Linked DNA regions of Homo sapiens: region 2 is linked to region 1. The links come from fine-mapping of genetic effects on gene expression. A gene starts in region 1. The other region holds a variant in brackets. All regions are shown on one strand. Distances are between the middles of the regions.

Evidence for each region. PIP is the estimated chance that this variant, and not a neighbour inherited with it, causes the effect.
Region 2: its variant is fine-mapped to the expression of HAL in whole blood (INTERVAL, PIP above 0.99).

The regions. Positions count from the first base shown.
Region 1 is chr12:95,993,297-96,001,296 of GRCh38, reverse strand. It overlaps HAL (histidine ammonia-lyase), which reads left to right and starts at 4,953. Exons shown (of 21, transcript NM_002108.4): 1 at 4,953-5,219; 2 at 5,306-5,633; 3 at 6,304-6,364; 4 at 6,472-6,499; 5 at 7,133-7,207; 6 at 7,299-7,371; 7 at 7,459-7,525; 8 at 7,809-7,846. The coding sequence starts at 5,387. LTA4H (leukotriene A4 hydrolase) reads left to right here. Exons shown (of 19, transcript NM_000895.3): 19 at 191-544. The coding sequence ends at 308. It overlaps LOC102723340 (a long non-coding RNA gene), which reads right to left and starts at 4,815. Exons shown (of 4, transcript XR_945237.4): 1 at 4,667-4,815; 2 at 2,870-2,966; 3 at 1,037-1,206. RefSeq lists enhancers at 2,546-2,605, 3,052-3,346, 4,571-4,740.
Region 2 is chr12:95,969,020-95,977,516 of GRCh38, reverse strand. It overlaps HAL (histidine ammonia-lyase), which reads left to right. Exons shown (of 21, transcript NM_002108.4): 19 at 811-919; 20 at 1,019-1,088; 21 at 3,145-4,855. The coding sequence ends at 3,285. Among named protein-coding and RNA genes, the nearest start is that of HAL, 23 kb to the left of the region's middle. RefSeq lists enhancers at 6,121-6,766, 6,767-7,412. The variant A/TTTTA (reference allele first, on the strand shown) is at 3,694.

The DNA of each region.
Region 1 (8,000 bases):
ATGCTGGCTGTCACCCCTGCTGACATCCTTTAATTTAATCTTGGGTATTGACTTGTGTTCTTATTCTCTTTCTCCTTCCTTTTTCCTTTCCTCTGAACCCCTTCCCTCCTTTCTTTCTTCTCTCCCTCCCTTTCTCCTCCTCTGTCTCCTTCTCGCCTTTCTTTCTTTTCAATTTTTTCTTTTTTGGCAGGGATCTTGCTGCCTTTGACAAATCCCATGATCAAGCTGTCCGAACCTACCAAGAGCACAAAGCAAGCATGCATCCCGTGACTGCAATGCTGGTGGGGAAAGACTTAAAAGTGGATTAAAGACCTGCGTATTGATGATTTTAGAGATTTCTCTTTTTTAAATGGAATTCGTAAAGAAATATAAAACTTCAGCTCACAATTAAAACTGTCTTTTTAGTTTTGGCTTTTTATTGTTTTGTTGGTGATTTTACTGAAATAAAGTTGAGCTACTTCTTCTTATAGTGGCATATTCTTTGTAAATTTTAACAAGGTTTAATCTTTTGATTTACAAATTAAAAAATTTTGAATTAGCTTTATATTAATTTTCTCTCAGTATGATCACAAAATATGTCAAGGTAGTATTTTACCTGATATATGATTTAAATTCATTAATTTGAATCTGCTGCAGATTCAAAAATTCAACATGGTTAGGATTTTGCTTTGCTTTTTAAATAACCTTAAACATAAGTCCGGGCGCAGTGGTTCATGCCTGTAATCCCAGCACTTTGGGAGGCCAAGGCGGGTGAATCACCTGAGGTCAGGAGTTTGAGACCAGCCTGGCCAACATGGTGAAACCCCGTCTCTACTAAAAATACAAAAATTAGCTGGGCGTGGAGGCACGACTGTAATTCCAGCTACTCAGGAGGCTGAGGGAGGATAAGCACTTTAATCTGGGAGGCAGGGGTTGTAGTGAGCCGAGATGGCGCCATTGCACTCCAGCCTGGGCAATGGAGACTCTGCCTCGAAAAATAAAAAATTAAAAAAAAACCTTAAACATGAATGCTTAGTTGTATTTGCACACCACCTACCTGGTGGACAGCAGATGAACTCCTTACCAGAATGTGTCAACCCTAGCAGGAGCTCTCAACTCCCTCCTCCTGGACCCCTCCGGCTCATCCAGTGGGCTTGTCCTGGTCTCCTGTCCATCAGGGGTCAGATGGCCACCCCAAGCACCAGTCTTTCCCATCCCTCTCACAGTCTGTTCAAAGACAACAAAATAACTTGAACCAAATAAAAGACAAACATAACAAAGCACCCCTGCCAATGCAACGTAGTGCCCCAGGGCATCTCAGCACACATAGCTGTACTAGGTAGAATTATTAGTGTATTAGCTCTATTAGTTAGAATTAATTAGAACCATAGCTGTGTTAGAATTCTTTGATTGCAAGTAACAGCAATCCAAGTGACCAGAAGTCAAAAAGGGAAAAGGAAGATTATTTTAAGGATGCTAGGTATGGGGAGATTATCAGAACCTGGGACGGACAGAAGGGGTCTGATGCCCAGGACTGCAGCACCGTCAGTGCTCCTGTCCCTCACCTCTGCCTCTCTAGTCCACGTTGTACAGGCCGGCCACTCTCCAGCTTTACTGTTACAAATAGCTCTGACCACATGGGGAGGCTATCACAATTCCAAATTCCCAGAGGTGAGACTCTAACCCAGGTTGGGTCCACCTCTGGTCAAATAAATTGTGTAAGAGGAATGGTGTCTTAGAGTATAATTGTTGGCATGGGGTGGGGGTGGGGAGCGGTGTCCTGACCAAATAACCCCTCAAAGTGCTAATGCAGTGACTAAAGTTACAATAGGAGTGAACACCCAAGGTGGGACAGGTATGGAAGAGACATATTCCTGCCTATTCCCGGAATCCTGACTTTTCCCTGGCTCTCACTCTCCCTAGCAGTTTTTGTTTTGTTTTGTTTTGAGACAGGGTCTCACTCTGTCGCCCAGGCTGGAGTGCAGTGGCATGACCATAGCTCACTGCAGCATCAGCCTCTGGGTTCAAGCCATCCTCCCACCTCAGCCTCTGGAGTAGCTGAGACTACAGGCATGCACCACCATGTCTGGCTAATTTTTGTTTTGTAGAGAAAGAGTTTGGCCATGTTGCCCAGGCTGGTCTCGAACTCCTGGGCTCAAGCAATCCACCCGCCTCGTTCTGTCCTCTTGGTCACTTATCTATGCTGCAGTGTGATTCTTTCTCCAGGCTCTGCTCTCCCTTGCCTTCCTTGCCAAGAATACAGAGAAGGGAGTTCAGCTCAAATCACTGGCATAAGATCATGTTCTAAGATTAGACTTTAGCAAATCCATTTACCCAAATACTGCTCTTTAAGGCTTCTGCCCTATGAGCTTACAAGACAAGCTGTAAGTTAATGTCGTTTTTAGTTATCACTTAGTGATACTGAAAGTGAATTGTGACAAGGGATGCTTGAAGGGTGGCATGGAAGGGTGCTGTGAAGAAGGTAGAGGGCGCTAAAGACAAACTTAATCCTGCTTGCTGGTTTACCTAGGGGCCAGCTCGGTGCAGTTCACATTTCTTCAGTTCAGCTAGTAAGCATATGCTAAATGTCTTTGTGCCAGATCGGATATATACATAATTATGGATGAACACAGACAAGTAATTTCCTAGATAATACTAAAGAAGAGCTATGCTAAGGCATCCCAGAGAAGGGCCACTTAACCCAACTGAAGAATTTAGGGAATGCTTCCTGGAGAAGAAAAGGCCTAAACAGGCTTAAGGAGTAAGAAAGATCTAGACAGGCAAAGGAAGTTGGAAAGTGCGTTTCTGGAGAAAGAATAACAAGGAAGACTCTGCTCCACAATGCGTAGGGCCTGAGTTTAGAATCCTCAAACTGCTGGGGGTGACTTACATGGCTGGGAGGTGGTATCACCTGGAAGCTCCTTCCCTCACTAGTCTGATGCCTGGGCTGAAATTACTCAGAAGCTGGTCTCGGCAGTGACAGTCAACTGGAGCATGCAGTAGTTTGGGTTGTTTTGCAGCATGAAGATAGTTAGACCTCTTATTAGTCATCTTTATACAGCTTTATCCATCACCAGACAGTAAGCCTCATGAATGTAGAGCGTGTTTGTTATTTATTTCATCCCCAGCACCTCGCATAGAGCTTGTTACATAACAGGTGTTGAAAAAATATTTGTTAAATGAGTCAAGGAATGAATGGGGGGGGGTGGGGCAGAAGGTTAAGGTGGTTCACATGTGCAGTCCTCAGTTTTCTCACAGATGTAGGAAGTAAGGTCTCCTTCTGAGAATTAGAGGTGGATGTCGAGAAGGTCCTGGCAGAGGGGTCAAAGTTTTGGAAAGTCACTGTGGGCTGGATGGAATAAAAGGGCAATACCATCAAACTATGTGATCACAGGACTTTCTCTATCAGTGTCTTCTGCCTGGGTGAACAGATATGACAGTTTCTTTTAATTTTAAACAGGGTCTTGCTCTCACCCAGGCTGGAGTACAGTGGTATAATCATAACTCATTGCAGCATTGACTGCCTAGGCTTAAGCAATCCTTCCAAGAGATGGCTGTTTTTTGTGATGACTAAGGGGATGGGTGTTATTCCAAGTGTAGACATAAGTTTAGGGATGCAAAGGAATCTCAGAGTGCTTAAGAAAGAGTGGTCCAGTGAGCGACTAGGGACCAGCTTCCTAGGATAGTAAGTGAGGATGCTGGTGGGAAGTGGAGGGATGAAGAGACTGACTGGAGGTCAGGTCCAAGGCTGGCAGTGACTAGAGTAAAAGGGCAGCTGGAAGGTTGTGGTCAGAAGGTGGAATATTGGAATTTCAGATTTCTTAAGTGTGTCAAATTCAGGTCGTGACAGATTCCAGGGTGATTTCTTAAGTGTGTCAAATTCAGGTCATGACAAATTCCAGGGTGCAGTCATGGTGTGGGTATCTGAAGAGCAAGTTTCAATAAGGCTCAAGGAAGGGTAGCTATTTGTACGCTTCCTGGGAAGCTGTCAGCAGATGAGAGGGACTCTGGGTATGAGTATAGGTGTTTTTCTTGAGCAACCATGTCTCTCTTCCCAACAGAAGTCTGATTTAGTGGAAACAGACTTTTCAGGATTTTTCTAGTGCAATAATCAAATCTCTAAAAATTGGCTTACGATGAAAGTGCTGCTTAGTCAAAATAGCATCTGCATATCTTTGATGCCGTAATCATGCTATCCAGAGTTCCTTAATACCAATGGTAATAAGGCGGGTGCAGGGAGCAGTTATCTGTGGTGAAGAAGCTTAATTGGGTGAGGGATATCCATGTGCCAAGATGAAAGAGCATTTATGGAACTTTATAGCTTTATGATTCATACAGAACATTTATAAAGCATTATAGTTACATGGAGTATTGGTGTCCAGATACTAGTAATCACAGACACTTCTATAATATTTCCACTATGCCAGGTGTTGTGTTGAGGGCTTTACATATATGAACTGACTTCATCCTCCCAATAGCCCTTTGACATATATACTATCATCATTACCATTATCTTCATTTTACAGATGAGGCAACTGAGGCCCAGAGAAGTCAAATCACTTGCCCACAAGTCATACACTTAGCAAATGGCAGAGCCAGGATTTGATCACAGGTAAATCCTGCACATACTGGAAGGAGGCAGTTAGCCCCTAGGCCTTCTGATAAGGAAATACAGGGTAATACTCACCTAATCAAGGCTAATAAGTAGTAGAGCTGGACTCTCATCCACGGCTGTCTGAGCCCCTAATCTCCAAGTCAGAGTGGTTCATTTGCCCAGATGACGACCTTTAGTTGTGAAAATGATCTCTGGCCTTTGCAGTCTTCCCTGGTGGAAAGAAAGCTTCAGAAAACCTTACTGGTGACAGGAAGTAGTTGCTCAATACATGTTTGTGGAATAAACAAATGAGTGACGATTGCCACACTCCCAGTGTCACAGTTGGCCCACAGAACACGTTTTACAGTTGAGTAATCTCAGATAAAGACAGGAACATGGTGTTTATAAGCTGCCCTTAATGGCAGAGAACACAGACAGAAACGAGGGAAGAGAGAGAAATTGGGGACCCTGAAGAAAGGGGGCCAGCAGCAGGTAGGTGCCATCAGGGACAAGAACAGCACCTCCCAGGGTGGGAGACCCCAGGCCTTTCTGGCAGCAGGTCTGGATGGAAAGTGGACAGGAGGCTCACCCGTCTGCATCCCCTGCTCCTGCCCCTGCTCGGCTACAAAAACCAAAGGGACAGCAGGTACCTCAATAAATATTTGTCCAATGCATGAATGAGTAAAGGTGAAGGAGGGGGAGTGGTTTGAAAGTCTATTCTCATCCTTCCAGCTGACCACACCCCGGTAGCCACTCCTGCATAAAGCTCTCCCCTCCTGTGACCAGCTGAGGACCTCAGGCTGCAGCGGAGCCATGCCCAGATACACGGTGCACGTACGTGGGGAATGGCTGGCAGTGCCCTGCCAGGACGCGCAGCTCACTGTGGGCTGGCTGGGCCGGGAGGCCGTGAGGCGCTATATCAAGAATAAGCCCGACAATGGTGGCTTCACCTCCGTGGATGACGCGCACTTCCTTGTGCGCCGGTGCAAGGGCCTGGGCCTGCTGGACAACGAGGACCGGCTCGAGGTGGCCCTAGAGAACAACGAGTTCGTGGAAGTGGGTGAGTGGCTGCAGGAGAGGGCCGCGAACGGGTGCGGTTTGGCCTGGCTTAGTCTTTGCAGCATTGAACCCCCACCTCAGGGAAAATGATGAGCAGAGGTCAGGCTTGCCGAGGCTGGCCCTGTGCAGGCACATGCCACGCCTCTGGGGATCTTAAGTCCTCACACAACCCTGTGAGATGGGTAGGATTCTCCTCCACCTCTGATGGAGGAGAAATCAGAGAGGAGGTAACTTACCCAGACTCCAGCAGCTAGTAAGTAACAAAGACTAGACTGGTACTCAAGGCTGCAGGTCTGAATCCCTTTGCAGTGACTGAATCATTTTGAGGTTATTTTGCCTTTCGAAAGAATCCACCCCCACCCCCAGACTGGAGGCCGGCAGCATAGCATCAGTTCAGATTTTGAAGAAAATAAAGCTGGGAATGGGGATGGAAGTGGAATTCTGTCTTGAACTTTCATCTAAACCCCTGGTCTCTGCCCTGACACCTACCTTTCTGCTTTTTGCTCTCCTCCTACATAAAGATGCTAAGACCACATGAAACCATCTGAAGCAGTTTTAAAGCAGCCATTTCTATAGAATTCATGGGCCAATGATGGGCCGTTCCTTGGTTTAACAGGGGGAACATGGCTGTACAATGTGATCTGTAACGAGTCTCCCGTGCATTGTTTTAGTTATAGAGGGTGATGCCATGTCTCCTGACTTCATTCCATCTCAACCAGAAGGAGTTTATCTGTATCCTTTCCCACAGGCTCTTTGGTCTGCTCTGGGGGTGGCTCCTGCAGATGGTGGGGCTGGGGGTTTTTCCACACCACCCTATATGTTCCTTTACCTGGATACAGATACAGCAAGTACCGGGAGCCTGAAAAGGTAAGCTTCAAACCACTTTCTTTTTCTTCAGAAAATTAAGGCCCCTTATTTAAGAGGGAGGAAAGCCAGGAAAACTTCTGAGAAAACACTGTCAATTAGAACAGGGCTGGCCGGGAGCAGTGACTCATGTCTGTAGTCCCAGCACTTTGGGTGGCCGAGGTGGGCAGTTCACTTGAGGTCATCAGTTTGAAACCAGCCTGGCCAACATGGTGAAACCCCATCTCTACTAAAAGTACAAAAATTAGCCAGGTATGGTGGCGTGCACCTGTAATACCAGCTACTCAGGAGCCTGAGGCACGAGAATTGCTTGAACCCAGGAGGCAGAGGTTGCAGTGAGCCATGTTTGTACCACTGCACTCCAGCCTGGGCTGGAGACTCTGCCTCAAAACAAACAAACCAACCAACCACAGGGCTTTATCCAGCTCTGTAGTGGGGAAAGGGGGCTTGGAAAGGCATTATGCTTTTGCACCAATAAGCCTCCTCTTATGCAAGATGCATTTTTATTTAGCATATTCATGTTTCACGCAATGATCAGATCTCTGAAATGTCAGTTTGGTTCTGTTGGAGGTGTCCCTACTCTGGTTAGAATAATCAAGCTGTTCAGACTCACTGAGATCCCCTTCTTTTGTGTAGTACATCGAGTTAGATGGAGACCGTCTGACCACGGAGGATCTGGTCAACTTGGGAAAGGGACGCTACAAAATAAAGGTATGGGGAGGGAGGGGAAAGATGTCCTCTGGCCATTTTTGTTGCCCGTGGAAGTCTTTAACGTGCTCAGTTCTGATCAACATTTTCCTAGCTCACCCCAACAGCTGAGAAGAGGGTGCAGAAATCCAGGGAGGTCATAGATAGCATCATAAAAGAGAAAACAGGTATCTTTTTATCTTTATGTTATAAATATTTTTATAAACAAACAAAAATCCCTGCATTTAATTGCATAATGTCTCTTTTTATTCTAGTTGTTTACGGTATTACTACAGGTTTTGGGAAATTTGCCAGAACTGTAATTCCTATCAATAAGCTACAGTAAGTTTAAAACACACATATGTTCACGTTCCACCTACCCTCATCTTTTAAATATTTTTCAACAAGGGAAATAATTCACATTTGCCCCAATTTACAGATCAGAGGATGAGGCTTGGGTTACCTTGCATGTGAGTTGGTATTGAAAACCCAGGCTGGCTGGTTTCTCCCATTGCCTTCCTTCTGTCCCTCCAAGGATTTGACCATGATTCCCTTCATTTTCCCAGCTGAGGGAACATTTTCTCACTGCAATGTATCTAAGAGGGTTTTTACCTTTCTGTTGCAGGGAGCTTCAGGTCAACTTAGTACGCTCACATTCTTCAGGTAAGTCAAAACGTTGGGTGCCTCCTGGATCTTGTGTGATTAGATGAATAAAGCACAGCACAGTGTGAGTTATCCAGTTATAGTCACAAAAAGCTAGTTTCTCAAAACAGCATTTCAAGAACTAGGTGCCGAGGTGAGAAGGGATGCAGAAAGA
Region 2 (8,497 bases), 24 kb after region 1:
CAAGCACCACCACACCTGGGTAATTTTTAAATTTTTTGTAAAGATGGGGTCTTGCTGTGTTGCCTTGGCTGGTCTCAAACTCTTGGCCTCAAGCGATCCTCCCACCTCACCCCCAAAGTGGTTTTTTTTTTAATGAGACTTTTAAAACATATTCAAAGTGGAGAGAAGAGTACCATGAACTCTCACACCCCACCTTGATTCAACAGCACATTCAATTTATGAAGTACACTATGAACTCTAGTGAGTGCAGACAGGTCACAGTGGGAGAGGATGAAGTTGTGGAATTCACGGTGGACCTGGAAGCAATTTCTCATCTTCTAGTCCAGTATCCCCACCCCGCAATTCATATGGAATTGGAAACCACGAGATGTAAAGCATCTTGATGAAATGCATACAATTATTTAATAGAACTGGGGCTCAAGATGAGGATCAGCTCTTCTTTCTGACTTCCTTCCCTACCCACATGACCCAAACTTGGCCAACAAACCTTTGTTAGAGGATGTGAATGGGGGACATGGCAGATTTTGCTAGTGCAGATGAATGGGCAGCTTCCTGGGTAGGTGTGCAGGTCTGGTAATTATTCAGGTAAATGTCTCAATTCTCCCCTTCTCAGCATTAAAGATATAGTCAAGGGGTTAGAAAACAGGTTAAAATGGCAACTAAATACCAAAGCAACTTCATTCTACCAATAGACAGAGAACAAACCATCTGTTAGTTGGGTGGTGATGGGTGTCAACTTTGGGAAATCCACATTCCTTAAGCATGAAGTCAGACTTTCATAAGCTACCCTCTTGGAATTTCTTGTTTCAGTGCTGGCCATCGAGCTCCTTGCAGCCTGCCAGGGCATAGAGTTTCTACGTCCCCTGAAAACAACCACTCCGCTGGAGAAGGTCTATGACCTGGTGCGCTCTGTTGTAAGGTAAGATCAAACAGGTCTCTGAAAATTACATCAGTTCAGCACTGTGAACCCTGGCAGGGTTTCATGTTTGGCTGATGGGCGGATGTGCTCTCCCTGTAGGCCCTGGATAAAAGATCGCTTCATGGCCCCGGACATCGAGGCAGCCCACAGGCTGCTCCTGGAGCAGAAGGCAAGCTGGCTCCTTGGCTTGTTTCTTAATTTTTAATTGTTACAGGAAAGCAAAGTCGGGGATGGAGAAACATTGCCTTATTCTATTGTTTTCTGGCCATTCCTTGGGAATGAGCAAAAAGGTATTTGAGCAACAACTTGCAGCACCACTAAGAAGCCATATAATAAACACTAAGTGCACCAGGGTGCAGCCAACGGTTGAATATCTAAGGATTAGAAACAGAAATGGATTTTAAATGGAGTTTTGGGACAATATTCATGGGGAAAAAAATAAGATGTCAGGTTCATTGATGCCTCCCCACCCCTGCAAGATGTCCTCTTTGATTCAAAAGTGCGTTCCCTTCTGGGTGATGCTATCACAACTACCACCACTGGGTGCAATGGCTGCGTAGACCTGGAGAGAAAACCAAGGCCCGGGTGTTTACTTCAGAAGACTTTCGGTCTGTCTAGTGCTCTGGTGAGATGCGGGTTTTTCTTTCTTGCATATTTCCACTGGTTACATTGACCGTATACTCAGCTGCCAGGTACAGATGCCCAGCATGCTGGCTTATCTTTTAAATATCGTTTTTGAAGTGCTTTAAACCTTTTGAATAACTTGTGGGTGTTATGTTCCCTAGAATCGCTTGATTTCCTTAAAACAGTTGCTCTGCTCTGGGGCAGTGATTTTTCCCTGTGATTTTCACACCCATTATTTCTAAGCATGCCCTGCACTCTGGATGGGGAAGCTGCTTGCCTGCTGCCAACTTTGGTGCTAGGAGGGAGGTATACGAGAGGTTAGCCTTTAAGAGTATTCATTTGCTAAGGTCATAAAAAATAATAGGAAAGGCTCCTTGGCTGTCAGTGGCAATCAGTTAAAAAGCAGATATAAACCAAAAACAGGGCCTTAATTTCATTCAATTTAAAAAAAAATTTTTTTAGAGATGCGGGTCTTGCTATGTTGCCAAGGCTGGACTCAAACTCCTGGGCTCAAGTGATCCTCCCACTTTGGCTTCTTGAGTAGCTGGGACTACAGGCACATGCCACCATGCCCGTCCAGGGCCTTACTTTGAGATGATGTTATGCTTAAGAAAAAAAAAAAAAAAGAAAAAAGAGGTTGGTGGGTGGGAGGCAAAAGCTAACCAAGGATCTGAGGCAGTGCCTCTCCAACATTAAAGTGGCTATGAATCTGCTGGGCATCTTGTTAAAATGCAGGTGTGGATTCAGTAGGTCTGGGTGAAGGCCAAGATTCTGACTTGTCCCAGGTGATGCTGATACTGCAGGGGCACAGGCCACGCTTTGAGTAGCAGGGTCAAAGGAACAGAGCACCTGTGGCATGGAAATAAGGCAATAGGGAAATACAATTCACTGCCTTTTACCATTTAAGGCTTGCTTTAGAAAACACACAGGTCCAGGCCATGTGTGGTGGCTCACGCCTGTAATCCCAGCACTTTGGGAAGCTGTGGTGGGTGGATCACTTGAGGCCAGAAATTCGAGACCAGCCTGGCCAACATGGTGAAACCCCATCTCTGCTAAAAATACAAAAATTAGCTGGGCCTGGTGGCATGCACCTGTAATCCCAGCTACTCAGGAGGCTGAGGCACAAGAATTGCTTGAACCTGGAAGGTGGAGGTTGCAGTGAGCTGAGATCATGCTACTGCACTCCAGCCTGGGCGACAGAGTGAGACTCTGTCTCACAAAAAAAGAAAAAAAACAAAAAAACAAGAAAAAAACCACATAGGTACTGTTAAGACCCTGGAGCAACTATCCTTCACTCTATCCACACTGAATTCTCTGGGTTTTGTTATTTGCTTGCTTGTTTTGCTTAGGAAAAGTATGCAGCTTAAAATCTTTATGATGACTTTAGAAAGTTTTGGACTTTGTATATTTACAGTCTTTAATGCAACCAAAGACTAATTGACACAGGTCATGTGTCAAATGGCTTAAAATAAAAGCAAGCAAACAGCAGCTGTGTCTGGTCATGTATAGAGTATGTTTTGACTTCGGATGAAGTTGATGTTTAATAGCATGTGGAAACAATGTCGTCAATATTTCAACTTTGTTTTGTCCTTGCTTTTCAGGTTTGGGAAGTAGCTGCTCCATACATTGAAAAATACAGAATGGAGCATATTCCAGAATCAAGACCTCTTTCTCCAACAGCCTTTTCACTGCAATTTCTGCACAAGAAATCCACCAAAATCCCGGAGTCTGAGGACCTTTAATGGGCTTTGTCATGAAGTAGCAGATGAGAGGGCAGTCAGTTTAGCACAAAGCAATACTAGGCTGAAGGAGAGACCTGAGAACTTTCCTAGGTAGATCAATCCATTGTATCATTCAGTTCTTCTAAAGCCTACGTTGGTTAGGCTGATGGCAGTATTATAGTTGCTAAATTCAGCACTGTGTTCCTGTTGTCGTGGTTCAAGACCCACCAGGTATTTTCAGATTATAAAACTTTTCTTTCTTTCTTAACAGTTTCAACAGGCCACTCACTCTTAAGGGTGAGAAGAATAACCACAATTGTATGTGCCTGTTTTTTACTCTTAGCATTAGATGAATTCAAATTTGGAAACAGATTGATAGCAATTTTTTCTAAAAACATTAGACTTTTGTTAACCTTTTTTTTTTTTTTT[A/TTTTA]AATTTGCTTCAACAAGCTCTCCACCAGTTGACTTTCTTTGGCTAATTTTACTTTGCATGATATGCCTTAATATGCCTTCATAAATAACCATTTTAAGTCATAATTTGTCCTTAAGCTGCTTTTTTCTTCTATTAATTGGATCATAGTAAAGAGTAGTCAATAGGGTCTTCAGCTATTAATTGTAGAGGTGATTAAAACCAACAAGGAGTTTCATGTGCAAAGGAGATAAGGAATGAATATAAAGATTGCTATTTGGGTGGCTCTTATTAAACTGTGTATTTTGTACTTATCACTACACGTATCCCCCAAATGCTTACATGGGAGTTTGAGGTTAGTATTTTCACTTCCTTGGTGTTAGTACTCTATTCACATTCTTATTGTAACCTTCCTCATTTCACAGATAAGGAATCTTTGGGGATTAACCAACCTCCTTTCTGTAATGGTAATCATTAAAATAAGTCCTATTGATAAAGGTCAGATGGAGCCCTAGAGTGTATTACTGCATCTATTTTTTTCCCCGAGAAGATAAAGGACCTTCAGGGATGGCTTAAGTGTATCTGTCCAGATGAAGGATGGGTCACATGACCTCTTGGCTTCCCAAGTCTAAGCTCTGTGACTTTGCACCAGTGTGTGCATATATGTGCAAGGCCCTTCAAGTGGTCTGAAACCGTGGCTCTAAAAACCACAGCTGGTGGAGAGGAGGACAGACACACTTGCCACCTTGCCTACCTAATTGCCATCTAAAATGGGCCGAACAGTGGATTTCACAATAGAGTTTTCACCCTTTAGATTTACAACCTGTCAGGTGGAAACTGAAGTGAAAACTGCTGCACACAGCAATTCAGGGAGCAAAAAATGTGCTGAGGAGACTGTTTACCTAAAGGTTGTTCTTGGTGCTATTCCTTGTCAAAATGTGAACACACACAAATGAGGTTTGTGCATTGTCATCCGTGGGCTGCCATTGAGCCAGTAACCCCCAGTGGTCTCATGGTGCTCTTCGCTCCAGTTTGGGGAATGCTGGATTCTTTCAGCCCCTGCAGCCCTCCAGGTCAAAATGACACTTTGTCACTGAGTTTTCTACACAGCTCTATTAGTAACTGACAGCACACGCCTTCAAGGGAACTTCAAGGGAAACATGGAATAAACTAAGTCTCAATTGCCTTATGGTGTCGCTTTATTCTTAGGTATTTATAGCAAAGTTAAGCGCCTCTAACAGCAGTTAATCAAGCTTCTGAAGGATTCAGTTGACAGATGTCAACCGTTTTAAGAACAATATGCTTGACTCAGTACACTCTTTTTCCCATTGGCTAGCAACAAAAGAGTTGGAGGTATCAGGATTTCCTCCCCAGCCCCGCAGGCTCACCTGGTCTTTGTCACAAGTTGTCTCAGGGCAGCTGGAGGAGGCAAACCCTAAAGAACAAGGGCTTTTCAAGTCCCTGTTGTGCCACGTTCGCTAATGTCCTGTTGGCTAAAGCGAGTCACGTTCCAGGCCCAGAGTCAATTTGGGAGGGTAACACTCAAGGGCATGGGCATGTGATTTGACGTGATCCATGGGCCTGTATCTGACAATCTACCACATGCATAAAATCCCATCACAGGCTGGGTGCAGTGGCTCATGCCTGTAATCCCAGCACTTTGGGAGGCCAAGGTGAGTGGATCACGAGGTCAGGATTTCAAAACCACCCTGGCCAAGATGGTGAAACCCTGTCTCTACTAAAATTACAAAAATTAGCCAGGCACCGTGGCAGGTGCCTGTAATCCCAGCTACTCGGGAGGCTGAAGCAGGAGAATTGCTTGATCCTGGGTGGCAGAGGTTGCAGCGAGCCAAGATCGTGCCACTGCACTCCAGCCTGGGTGACAGAGTGAGACTCCATCTCAAAAAAAAAGAAAGAAAGAAAAAAAAGAAAAGAAAAAGAAAAAAAAGTCATTACAACCGGCAAAATTCAAAAGCAGATACATTTCATACTGCTTTAAACCTGTGTCTGATTTTTGGGTCTGGTCACTGGATTGCTTTTTATTAAACTTTATGGTTCTCTTTATGGTTCATTTTGCTTTTTTTTTTTTTTTTTTTTGAGATGGAGTCTCGGCTCTGTCACCCAGGCTGTAGTGCAATAATGCTACCTTAGCTCACTGCAAACCTCTGCCTCTTGCGTTCAAGCAATTCTCCTGCCTCAGCCTACCGAGTAGCTGGAATTACGGGTATGCGCCATCACACCCGGCTAATTTTTGTATTTTTAGTAGAGATGGGGTTTCACCATGTTGGTCAGGCTGGTCTTGAACTCCTGACCTCCAGGGATCCACATATCTTGGCCTCCCAAAGTGCTGGGATAACAGGCGTGAGCCACTGCTCCCAACTCATTTTGCCTTTTTGCTTACTTTTGTTGAGAGTATTAATTTATTAAATGTAAACATTGTAAATGTAAATGTAAATGTAAAAAATAGTTGGAGAACATTAGTTTCAGCCCAGAGGGTAGACTTCATTAGTCTAACATACAAAAGACAGTTAAATTACAATGCTACAAAGGCTATCATAGAGATGTGGGAATGTGGGGAAGGGCGTCCAGCTCCAGTTTCCCATGTAAGGAAGAGAAGGAAAGCATTCTGGGCAGAGGGAACCGTATTGCATGGCCCTGAGCAGCTCACTGTCCCCTAAGGAACAGTGTGAAGATTGGTGTGATTAGGGCTTAGAACTCAGAGCTGCTCAGACCTTAATGTGCATGTGAATCACCCGGGGCTTATTAGCATGCAGATTCGGACTCAGCAGGTCTGGGTCCAGCCAGAGGTTCTGCATTCCTAGCAAACTCCGTCAGTTGCACGGGCTTGCAGCACGCTGGCCTGGGAGGACTAGGGCAGTTTGGGTAGATGTCTTTTTCTGTCTTCTTTCAAAAAAGGCATGAATGCTATTTGTTTAAAGTGAGTGCCTCCTAGATGAAAAATCAGATGTGCTTCTCCTTCTTGTTTCTTCAATAGAAGAATCTAATCTTGTGTTGCTTGAGTTCCAGGGAAGACTCGACCTAACATTCCGTTTTGGCTTTTATGTGTATCTCCTGCGCCCCAAATGTTCAGTGCCTAGGTGACTGGTCACAGGGGAGCCATCACACACAGCAACTGTGTGCCCCCTACACTGTCTCAAGACTTCTTAAATAATCGCATGAGGTTCAGAGCTCCAGAGACCCCATTGTGATTGTGTCCGGAATTGGTGGGTTCTTGGTCTCACTGACTTCAAGAATGAAGCCGCGGACCCTCGGGCTGAGTGTTACAGCTCTTAAGATGGTGCGTCTGAAGTTGTTCGTTCCTCCCGGTGGGCTCGTGGTCTTGCTGAGCTCAGGAGTGAAGCTGCAGATCTTCGTGGTGAGTGTTACAGCTCATAAAAGCAGCGTGGACCCAACGAGTGAGCAGTAACAAGATTTATTGCAAAGAGCGAAAGAACAAAGCTTCCACAGTGTGGAAGGGGACCCCAGCGGGTTGCCAATGCTGGCTCGGGCAGCCTGCTTTTATTCTCTTATCTGGCCCCACCCACATCCTGCTGATTGGTAGAGGCTAGTGGCCTGTTTTGTCAGGGCGCTGATTGGTGCGTTTACAATCCCTGAGCTAGATACAAAGGTTCTCCACATCCCCATCAGATTAGTTAGATACAGTTTCCACACCCAGGTTCTCCAAGGCCCCACCAGAGCAGCTAGATACAGAGTGTCGATTGGTGCATTCACAAACCTTGAGCTAAACACAGGGTGCTGATTGGTGTATTTACAAACCTTGAGCTAGATACAGAGTGCCGATTGGTGTATTTACAATCCCTGAGCTAGACATAAAGACTCTCCCTTTGGGAGGCCGAGACGGGCGGATCACGAGGTCAGGAGATCGAGACCACCCTGGCTAACACGGTGAAACCCCGTCTCTACTAAAAATACAAAAATTAGCCGGGCATGGTGGCGCGCGCCTGTAGTCCCAGCTACACGGGAGGCTGAGGCAGGAGAATGGCGTGAACCCGGGAGGCGGAGCTTGCAGTGAGTCGAGATTGCGCCACTGCACTCCAGCCTGGGCGACAGAGCGAAACTCCGTCTCAGAAAAAAAAAAAAAAAAAGACTCTCCACGTCCTCACCAGAGCAGCTAGATACAGAGTGTTGATTGGTGCACTCACAAACCTTGAGCTAAACACAGGGTGCTGATTGGTGTATTTACAATCCCTGAGCTAGATATAAAGACTCTCCAAGTCCCCACCAGACTCAGGAGCCCAGCTGGCTTCACCTAGTGGATCCCGCACCGGGGCTGCAGGTGGAGCTGCCTGCCAGTCCTGCGCCATGGGCTCGCATTCCTCAGCCCTTGGGTGGTCGATGGGACTGGGCGCCGTGGAGCAGGGGTGATGCTCGTCAGGGAGGCTCGGGCCGCACAGGAGCCCATGGAGTGGGTGGGAGGCTCAGGCATGGCGGGCTGCAGGTCCCGAGCCCTGCCCCGTGGGAAGGCAGCTAAGGCCCGGCGAGAAATCGAGCACAGCGCTGGTGGGCCAGCACTGCTGGGGGACTCAGTACACCCTCCGCAGCCACTGGCCCGCGTGCTAAGTCCCTCACTGCCCGGGGCCAGCAGGGCTGGCCGGCTGCTCCGAGTGCGGGGCCTGCTAAGCCCACGCCCACCCGGAACTCCAGGTGGCCCGCAAGCGCCGCACGCAGCCCCTGTTCCCGCTCACGCCTCTCCCTCCACACCTCACTGCAAGCTGAAGGAGTGGGCTCCAGCCTTGGCCAGCCCAGAAAAGGGCTCCCACAGTGCAGTAGGGGGGCTGAAGGGCTCCTCAAATGCCACCAAAGTGGG